3 separate regions of the Homo sapiens genome follow, and all the other regions are linked to region 1. Evidence: fine-mapped expression QTL. A gene starts in region 1. Each other region holds a variant in brackets. All regions are shown on one strand. Distances are between the middles of the regions.

Evidence for each region.
Region 2: its variant is fine-mapped to the expression of STXBP5 in whole blood (TOPMed, PIP 0.97).
Region 3: its variant is fine-mapped to the expression of STXBP5 in adrenal gland (GTEx, PIP above 0.99).

Annotation. Positions count from the first base shown.
Region 1 is chr6:147,203,036-147,205,798 of GRCh38, reverse strand. It overlaps STXBP5 (syntaxin binding protein 5), which reads right to left and starts at 1,382. Exons shown (of 28, transcript NM_001127715.4): 1 at 1,117-1,382. The coding sequence starts at 1,266. STXBP5-AS1 (STXBP5 antisense RNA 1) reads left to right here and starts at 1,185. Exons shown (of 11, transcript NR_034115.1): 1 at 1,185-1,386. It overlaps LOC124901422 (a long non-coding RNA gene), which reads left to right and starts at 2,228. Exons shown (of 2, transcript XR_007059803.1): 1 at 2,228-2,763. RefSeq lists silencers at 1,240-1,429, 1,600-1,679, 1,700-1,749, 1,780-2,199.
Region 2 is chr6:147,321,175-147,323,937 of GRCh38, reverse strand. All of the region lies in intron 16 of STXBP5 (syntaxin binding protein 5), which reads right to left. Among named protein-coding and RNA genes, the nearest start is that of STXBP5-AS1, 120 kb to the right of the region's middle. The variant G/A (reference allele first, on the strand shown) is at 1,350.
Region 3 is chr6:146,896,525-146,899,287 of GRCh38, reverse strand. The region is part of intron 7 of STXBP5-AS1 (STXBP5 antisense RNA 1); the gene reads left to right. Among named protein-coding and RNA genes, the nearest start is that of LUADT1, 260 kb to the left of the region's middle. The variant G/T (reference allele first, on the strand shown) is at 1,126.

The sequences.
Region 1 (2,763 bases):
ATAGAACCTGAAACAAACAAAAATCTAGTCCAGTGATATACTTTAATTTCGCTTTTCCATAATACTGGTATTCCATAGAAGAAAATCTTTTATTAATATTCTATACTACTACATCCGACACCAGATGACTAAAGTTTGCAATGGTCCAAAATTCTGTAAACCCATTAAATGCAATTCATACTTTATTTTGGCAGTATTCATTTCATCATTACTTTATTTGGATGCTAACGCAAGTACTTCTAAGGAAAAGCTGTCATATAATTACTTTAGTCAAGCATTCAGTAGAGCAATAATCAAACCTCTATCCCAACATTTTACACTTGTAACAGAATGAAGATGAGTACAACATACATTTTTGCAATTTACTATTAAGGCCATAATCATTTTAGGGCATTAGACCTATATATATATATATATATATATATATGCACACTTTTAATTAACTCTGACATACAAATACATGGCTATTTATGAGAAAGGCAGGTATTAAAACCGAGGCAAGTTTGTGTTTCTCATTAAGCAGCTGGTGACTTAATTCGCTGCATCATTCTTTCTGAATTACAGAACGCTATGGCAATTATCGTGCCATTAACAGGCAAAAATCTCAGTACTTTTTAACAAACATAATGATAAAAAGAACCCTGTGATTTCATATCGTAAGCCACTTACACCACATTTTAAGGGAAAAGTGATGAGCAAAGGTGTGGTAGAACAGGTTTGGCTTTTTGATAAACAACATTCATTAGACACCGTTTCCAAAGGAAACTTCGAAGTTGGTGAATCATATTAAAACGCTTGAATATAAAAGCTTCCAGGTTATTACTGGCAGTGTCAGAATACGATTAAAGGTCGGATAATAGTTTGAAGCAACCTTGAACTGATTGCTGCATGTGCAAAGGGGAGAGAGAAAAATCAATGAAAAGGAGTAAGGTATCAATCTCCAAAACAACCCACCGAAGAAACGTTTGCCAAGGGAGGAGCGAGCCTTTTATTAGAGTTATTATTATTATTATTGGCGTTCTCTTCCCTTGCATTCCCATGTAAAGCCCGAGTAGCCCCCTTAAAACAACCCCAATTTTTCAATGACGGTGTCGCGGGGCTGCGCGCTCCGTTCACCTTGCAGAGCTGAAAGTGCTCGGACTGGAGCGTTTCCTGGATCTCCGGCTCCCGGTTCCCAGGCGGATGCTGCTGCTGTTGCTGCTGCGACGCCGAGGACGAGCCGGCGGTCAGGCCGTCCAGCACCTTCCTGATGTTGAATTTCCTCATGGTCTCGGAGGGGCTCCCCCGCAGCCCGGGAGGGGAGGCACAGGGGGTCCCCGGGCGGGGGAGACCACCCGGGGCCGAAGGCAGCTTCGACCGCGGAAACGGAGGAGTGGGAGTGTGAGGGTAAGGAGGCAGCTGGGGGGAAGCAAAAGATAATCCGAACAGGAAATACTGCGACGACAAGAGCGGCGGCCGCAAGAAACCTGGGCGGCGACCCCTCTTCCTCCGAGGCCGCCGCTGCTTGGCGCGGCTGCTGTGGTGCCGATTCAGCCGCCGCCGCCGCCGCCTCGCTCCGCGGCCCGGCAGCAGCAGCAGCAGCAGTGGCGGCGGCGCCCGAGCCCGCTCAGCCCAGCCTCACCTGGCCGCGGGCGGACTCTGCGCCGCGCCGCCGCCCCGGCTCGCCCCCGGCGCCGCCACCGTCGCCGCTGCGTCCATGGCCCGCGGCCGCGCCGCTGCTCGCCCGCCCCGGCCCCGCAGTCCCTCGGCGCGTCCTCCGGCTCCTTCTCCTCCTGCCGGGGGTCGCCGGCTCTCTGTCCGCGGCCGCCGCTCGGCCTCGCACACAAGGCGCCTGGTGTGGGTCCCCGCGCCGCCTGCCTCGCCCCGCCTCGCTCCTCCGCCGCTGGACCGGCCCGCCCTCGCCGCTCCCGAGCCCGGCTGCGTTCCTCAGGCGCCGCCGCGGCCGTCGGCTCTCCCCGCCCAGCCGCTCCCCATCGCCTGACAGGGCGCCTCGGCACACGGCACCAACGCCCGCCCGGAGCAGCAGCGGCAGCCGCGGTTACAGCGCGGGCCGCGGCGGTGGCGGCAGCAGGGCCTCCCAGGAGCCGGGCTGCGGTACCTGCGCATGCGCGCCGCAGCCCGGTTCCCCCACCCTGGCCCAGCAGGCCCCCAGCCCCCCAGCCCGAGCGAAGCTGGGGCTTAAATTATCTTCTGCGAAAATCCCAGACGCTGGCTAAATTTCTCCCACCCCAGTCGAGTTGCCAGAGTATGCAGCTGCTTCTCTTGCAGCTGGCATAGTAAAAATGTTGACGACTAACAAGCAGCAGGAAACCTTTCTTTCCAATTCAGTCATTACAGCAGGGGTTGATGCTTTCTCGCCGTTAATGGGGTGCACGCTCCTGGCCGCTGGCTGCAGTATTATTTTTCTTGCTTTATTGACGGGCGTTGTTTTTGTTTGATTGGATTTGAGTTTTGAAAAAGAGCGTCTAGACAACGATATGTCAGTGGCAGGAGGATGATGGACTTAGGTACTAGGAAAAGGAGAGAAACCTAGACGGGAAAAAACGGGTTCTTTCCTACAGCTGTTACTGTTGGTGGAACGTGTCTGGTCTTAGCAGTTAGCTGCTGGGATGGAAGAGGCTGCCAGCGGGGAACGGTTCCAGGGCCGGTGTCAGCCCGGGCCGATGACACTACCCCGCACCCAGCCCCTCGCCGGGGAGGAGCGCGGGTGGCAGGAAACGCCGCGCTGCCACTATTTTTCAGAACCTTCAATCTGCCCTGACG
Region 2 (2,763 bases), 120 kb before region 1:
CCAGGGCCAGACTTTAGAGGGTCTTCAAGTCCTGTCCACAAAGGTTTGATGTTGGTAGAAAGAACTCTCAGCAAGGTGGACTTTGAGTACTGATTCTGTTACTCACCAGCTGTCTTTTCACCTAGAAAGTGGGAGTATTACTACCTAGTCACAATGTGAGGAACTTGTGACTGCCTATGAAAAGTACTTTGCAGATGGTCAAATTAGACAAAGGTAATATATTTTCATTATTAAAGAATTAAGACAGGCTGGGTGCAGTGGCTCACACCTATAATCAGAGCACTTTGGGAGGCCGAGGTGGGCAGATCACTTAAGGTCAAGAGTTCGAGACCAGCCTGGCCAACATGGCGAAACCCCGTCTCTACTAAACATACAAAAATTACCCGGGTGTGGTGGTGAGCACCTGCAATCCCAGCTACTCGGGAGGCTGAGGCAGGAGAATCGCCTGAACCTGGGAGGCAGCGGTTGCAGTGGGCTGAGATGGCACCACTGCACTCCAGCCTGGGCGACAGAGTGAGATCTCCGTCTCCAAAAAAAAAAAAGAAGAATTAAAGGCCAATGAAGGTTGATAAGAAATATCTGGGGAAGATTAATTTGGTGAACATAGGTAAGACGAAGTAGAACAGGGTCACCAATTGGGAAGTTCCTGTGATTCTGATGTGAAACAAGAAAAAGGGAGATTGAAACACATTAATGGAGTAAGAACAGACAAGGCTTTACATTTCAGGAAGGCAGAAACCTTGCAGCTATTAATACTTTTAACACTGGCACAAAAGAGGTACTCAATATTTACTGAATGAATTGGAGGTTGAGTAGAGGTAGGGTAGAGGAAGAAAAGAAGAAACAGTGAATGTACAATCAGACAGAAGGAAGGGAGGGAGGGAGGGATAAAGAGGTAGTTTTAGGAGACCATGGGGTTAAGTTTGAGATGATGGTAGAGAACTACAAGTGAAACTAGTCAGCAGGTATGACTACCTATTCCCAAACCTCATGAATAGTTAAATCCATGCTGAACTAAACTTGTCATTAGGATTTTAGAAAGGAAGAGATAAAGAGGGGTTTAAAAGAGTGTGAGACCTTCTGAAACAATACCTGCTATACTTGTACCAGAAAACTTCAAGTGTACTTGAAAGGCACATTTTTTTAAAAAATGTGAACAATTTTAGTGTGTGACTGCTTTTATTGTAAAAAACTCTACTATGACTTTAAGTTAAAAACATTTTTGATTGCACAACTCTTTGCCTAGTAATTGCTGTAGCAAAACATATGCAAAGCCTGGTTACTTCCGCAATTCTTAAGGCTTCTGCCTTGAAATGACAGTGTGTGAGAGAACAGCAGGAAGACTACTC[G/A]ATGTTGAATTTCCTGCCACCAAACTCAGAGGTAAGAACCCTTCTGAATTATTCAGTTGGTATTTCTAATGTGGAAGACCATGGCACCTCGTGTTTTGATGACATACATGCTAGGAAACAGCGAAAGTTGTTCAGACTTCAGGGTAAATGTGAATCACTGAGGGCACTGCTTATACGAATTGAACTACAGTTCACTTCTGGCTGGTCAAGGTTTGCAAGGCAATGCATTCAGAACTCTACACTGGCTGATGCAAAATTTCTGAATTATTCTTAGGGAAATACCCACTAATCAGCTACAGCTCTCCATCTCAAGCGACAGAGTAACAACTGAGGCATTTCATTTCTTCCCAGAGTCAGCCTTGACACAGGAGTAGACTGAAGGGTCTGAGTGGTCTATCTTCTACTTCTATGAATTAGGTATAGAAGGTTAGGGTCAAGGAAGTGTCCTCCCTCCCTCTGGCATATTAAATGTGCACGACAAATTCTCAAGAGCAGAACCAGGCATTCCAGGGATAATTTTAGAAGTACATATATGGGCACATTTAAGATTTAAGTGACCAGGACACACAGAACTCATGGAATTCTTATTTTAGTTAGTATAAGGAAACAAAAAAACGTTCTTAAGTAAAAATAAAAAGGCAGCCAAACATGATGCAAAATGGTAAAGGATGAGAAACCTAAGCCAAGAAATGAAAGCAGGTAAGTTACATTTTAAAAATATGAAATGGGAAGAGGGTGTTATGCTTTATTCTAAATGGTTATGGTATAATTTTAATGTTTTTAATATATTCAAGTTGATTTGTTTACTTTTTAAGGAAAAAGTTTTATAAAGAGTTCCATAATTTGTACAAACGTATTTTAAATGTTAAAGTGATGCGTAGAGCCTCACAGTTTCAAAATGATTGTTTGAGCAAGTACCTTGCAAAGGGACAATAAAAATAATTCAAAAACATAAAATTTCATTGCTAAAAGAAACAAGTCAAACGGCTGCCTTTTCTTTTTTACCTCTTTTTTTAAGAGACAGAAACTCACTCTGTCACCCTGGCTGGAGTGCAGCTATGATCATAGCTCACTGTGACCTTGAACTCCTGGGCTCAGGCAATCCTCCCACTTCAGCCTACAGGTGATGTCGCCACACCTGGCTAATTTTTTAAAAAACTTTATTGTAGAGATGGTATCTTACTATGTTATCCAGACTGGTCTTGAACTCCTGGTCTCAATCAATCCCCTTCCTTGGTCTTAAACAGCTGCTTTTAAAATGTTTCTTCAAATAAACCAATTGTAAACAAAGGCATTTTATATGAAAAAAGCCTCAATATTATATTTTAACATCAATTTTTGTTATACTTCTTACTTTAAGAAACTGGCCTCTAGGACTGTGGACCAAAACAATGTCAAGTTAATAAATACCTGC
Region 3 (2,763 bases), 310 kb after region 1:
TGTCCAAGTTACATACACAACTACAAAATAGCAGAGCTGGAAATTAAACCCAAATCTGATAGACACTGAACCCATCTTTTGTATATACCATGTGACCACTTCGTGCCTGGGGATGAACTGTCCTAGAATTGTTTGCATTTTAATCATGAGCAACATTCAAAAGGTAATGGAATGGGTTCCAAGGTCAAACTTCCAGACACTGGAGAAGGTGGGAGTAAAACAGTATTGGGTTTTAGGAATCTTCCCAGTGTTTGTTCCTGAGACAAGTCCCTGAGGTAGTGTCTTGTCAGTTCAGCTGGCATTTATGAAGCACATACATCCACCATACTTGATGCCTGGCTCTGGAAATAATACCGTTGTTATAAGCGATGCTTGTCTTCTCCTTCTCTTGACAACCTACCCCTCTCTTCTGGAAAGTTCAAGTTGTGGAACAATGTGCCCAGGATCTAGTTCTTTTCTTTTTCATTAAGGATAATTCTCTTCCTACATTAGCAAAATCATATGACATCAGTTACTAGGAGTGTTTAAATTTTTTCATATCTACACCATCGGCTGTAATTTTTGAATCTAGATTTCATCTGTTTATCCGTTGAAAACAGGAAGCATTTGGGAGATGGCTTGTAGTATGCCTCATATGTAGCATTTACTAAAATAAAGGACACTGGAGAGAGTCTAAGGTTTATCACCAAATTACACCAGTAGAAGCCTGCAAAGAGTCTCCAAAAAAAAATCATATTTTTAATTTGGCAAACTGAGTCTCTTTTCCATGAACACACATTCAGGTTATTGAAGGCAATTTTCTTGTCCTGCAAGTTTTTAATTATTTTTAATCCTAGTGAGACATGCTGAACTTCTTCATCTGCTCCTTGGGTGAGTGAGGTGATTTTTAGGATCCTCGCCTTTTCTGTCTCTCTCTCTCTCTCACAGAGTAGTCTGCTTAGACATCATTTTTCTTATCGTGTGGTGTCCAGGGTTAAAGATTTTATCTCAGATAGGGGTTCATGAGGCAGGAGTTCATGGTGCCTCCCTTTATCTGAAACCCACTTTTCATGCTGTCTTAGATATGGTCCACTTGTTTATCAGTTCTCTTCCAGAACTGGTTTATATTGAGCTCATTCGCTCAAG[G/T]TCTTTCCCTCACAAATTCTTTTAAAGCCAGTTCTCTGTCCTTAAAATCAACTGAATTTAACGTAAAAGACATACATTTAAAAATGTTGAAAAGGAGACTTTTCTATTTATGCTGATAGCATATCATCTTGTTAGTATCAATATATCTTCCTGGCCTTTCTAGATGTTTCTGAATCTTCATAGGAGTGGAGGGAGGTGACAGCGCTGCTGAAACAAAACAAGTCATGTGAAGAGAATGGTTGAAATTAAATGACAGGTCCATAGGGGTCCTTTCTACTGTCCTGTCTATTTTTGTATGGGCTTGAAATTTTCCAAAATAAAAAGTTAAAAAAAATACCCAAGCATTATCTTCTTGCATATACTTAGTCTTAGCCATCTCAGCTCACAATTTGACAGAAAATTTACCCAGTGTTTTCCTTAGATCAAAATACTTGATTTCAAAAACATTCCTCTCAGTTAAGTGGTAAATTTATCAGAATCCCTCAAGTTAGAATTAAGCATTAACAAATTAAATGAATAAGAACATTCTGAATTTATCAGGATCTCTATTAGTTTTGTTTCCAATCTTGGCTGTACCTGTGTTACATGTAAAAATATTGCCTTGTGTTTTTAATCCCTGACACGGTATCAAAATTGGCCATTTATATATATTTTGGGACCTTAGTGATTGACAGAGCTGAATCAAAGGTTAGACAGCCTTTGGCATCAATCTGTGAGGGGAACTAAACGTCACTGATTACAAAGACATCAATGGGAATATAACAAGTATAAGAAATCATATTTACCAGAATTCCTCTAGGGAAAAGTGGTTGGAAGAATTAGTTTGATAAGACCCTACAAACAAGAGAAGAGACTTTCCAGACTCGGGCTCAGGTGACTGTGAGGAATGTCCTACCTGATTCTGAGGATGGTTGGTCAGGAAAGGGCAGGCATATTTTGCAGAGTGTTAGGCACATTTGAGATCCCGACTAAATTGCTCAGAACAGTTCAGCACAGCCAAGAGCAGCTCTTCTTTTCTGCCACACCCTACAGCACATAACCTCTCTCCTTAATGCACACTGGGAAAATACTTTTAAAACATTAGTTTGAAGAGGCAACAAATTATTAACATGCTCTCTTGTTTAGGTGAGCCCTAGGTTTTAAGACTTAATTTGCAAGAATTAAAATTATAACCAGAATATTGGAAAGTAAAGAAATACTTCCACTCAAAAGATCTAACTCTAAGATGATTTTGCCCCATTTGGTCTCAAGAATTACACTGTTCCATGACCAGGCTAGGACTGTCTTAACAATTCACTATTCAAAGGAAAATATGCATGACTAAAATAAGTGAAGGACAATTGACTGAGCCACAGCTCAGGAACTCCCTGACACCCCCAAAGACAAACTGTCCCTTGGAAGACTTTACCAGCCCTGTGTGGCCAGAGCTGCTACAAGGGCTATTTCCAACATTTCACATAAGCACTGCAGACACAGGCACTGCAGATACGAAGAACATCAAATTCAGCCAACCAGCTTCAGGTTAAGAGAAGGGCAAATATAGTCAGAACAGTGCTTAGAAATGTTTAATGAGCTTTTTTTTTTTTTTTGGTACCTTGAAGAAGACAGAAATGTGAAAGGCATGGCCTTGATAGACCT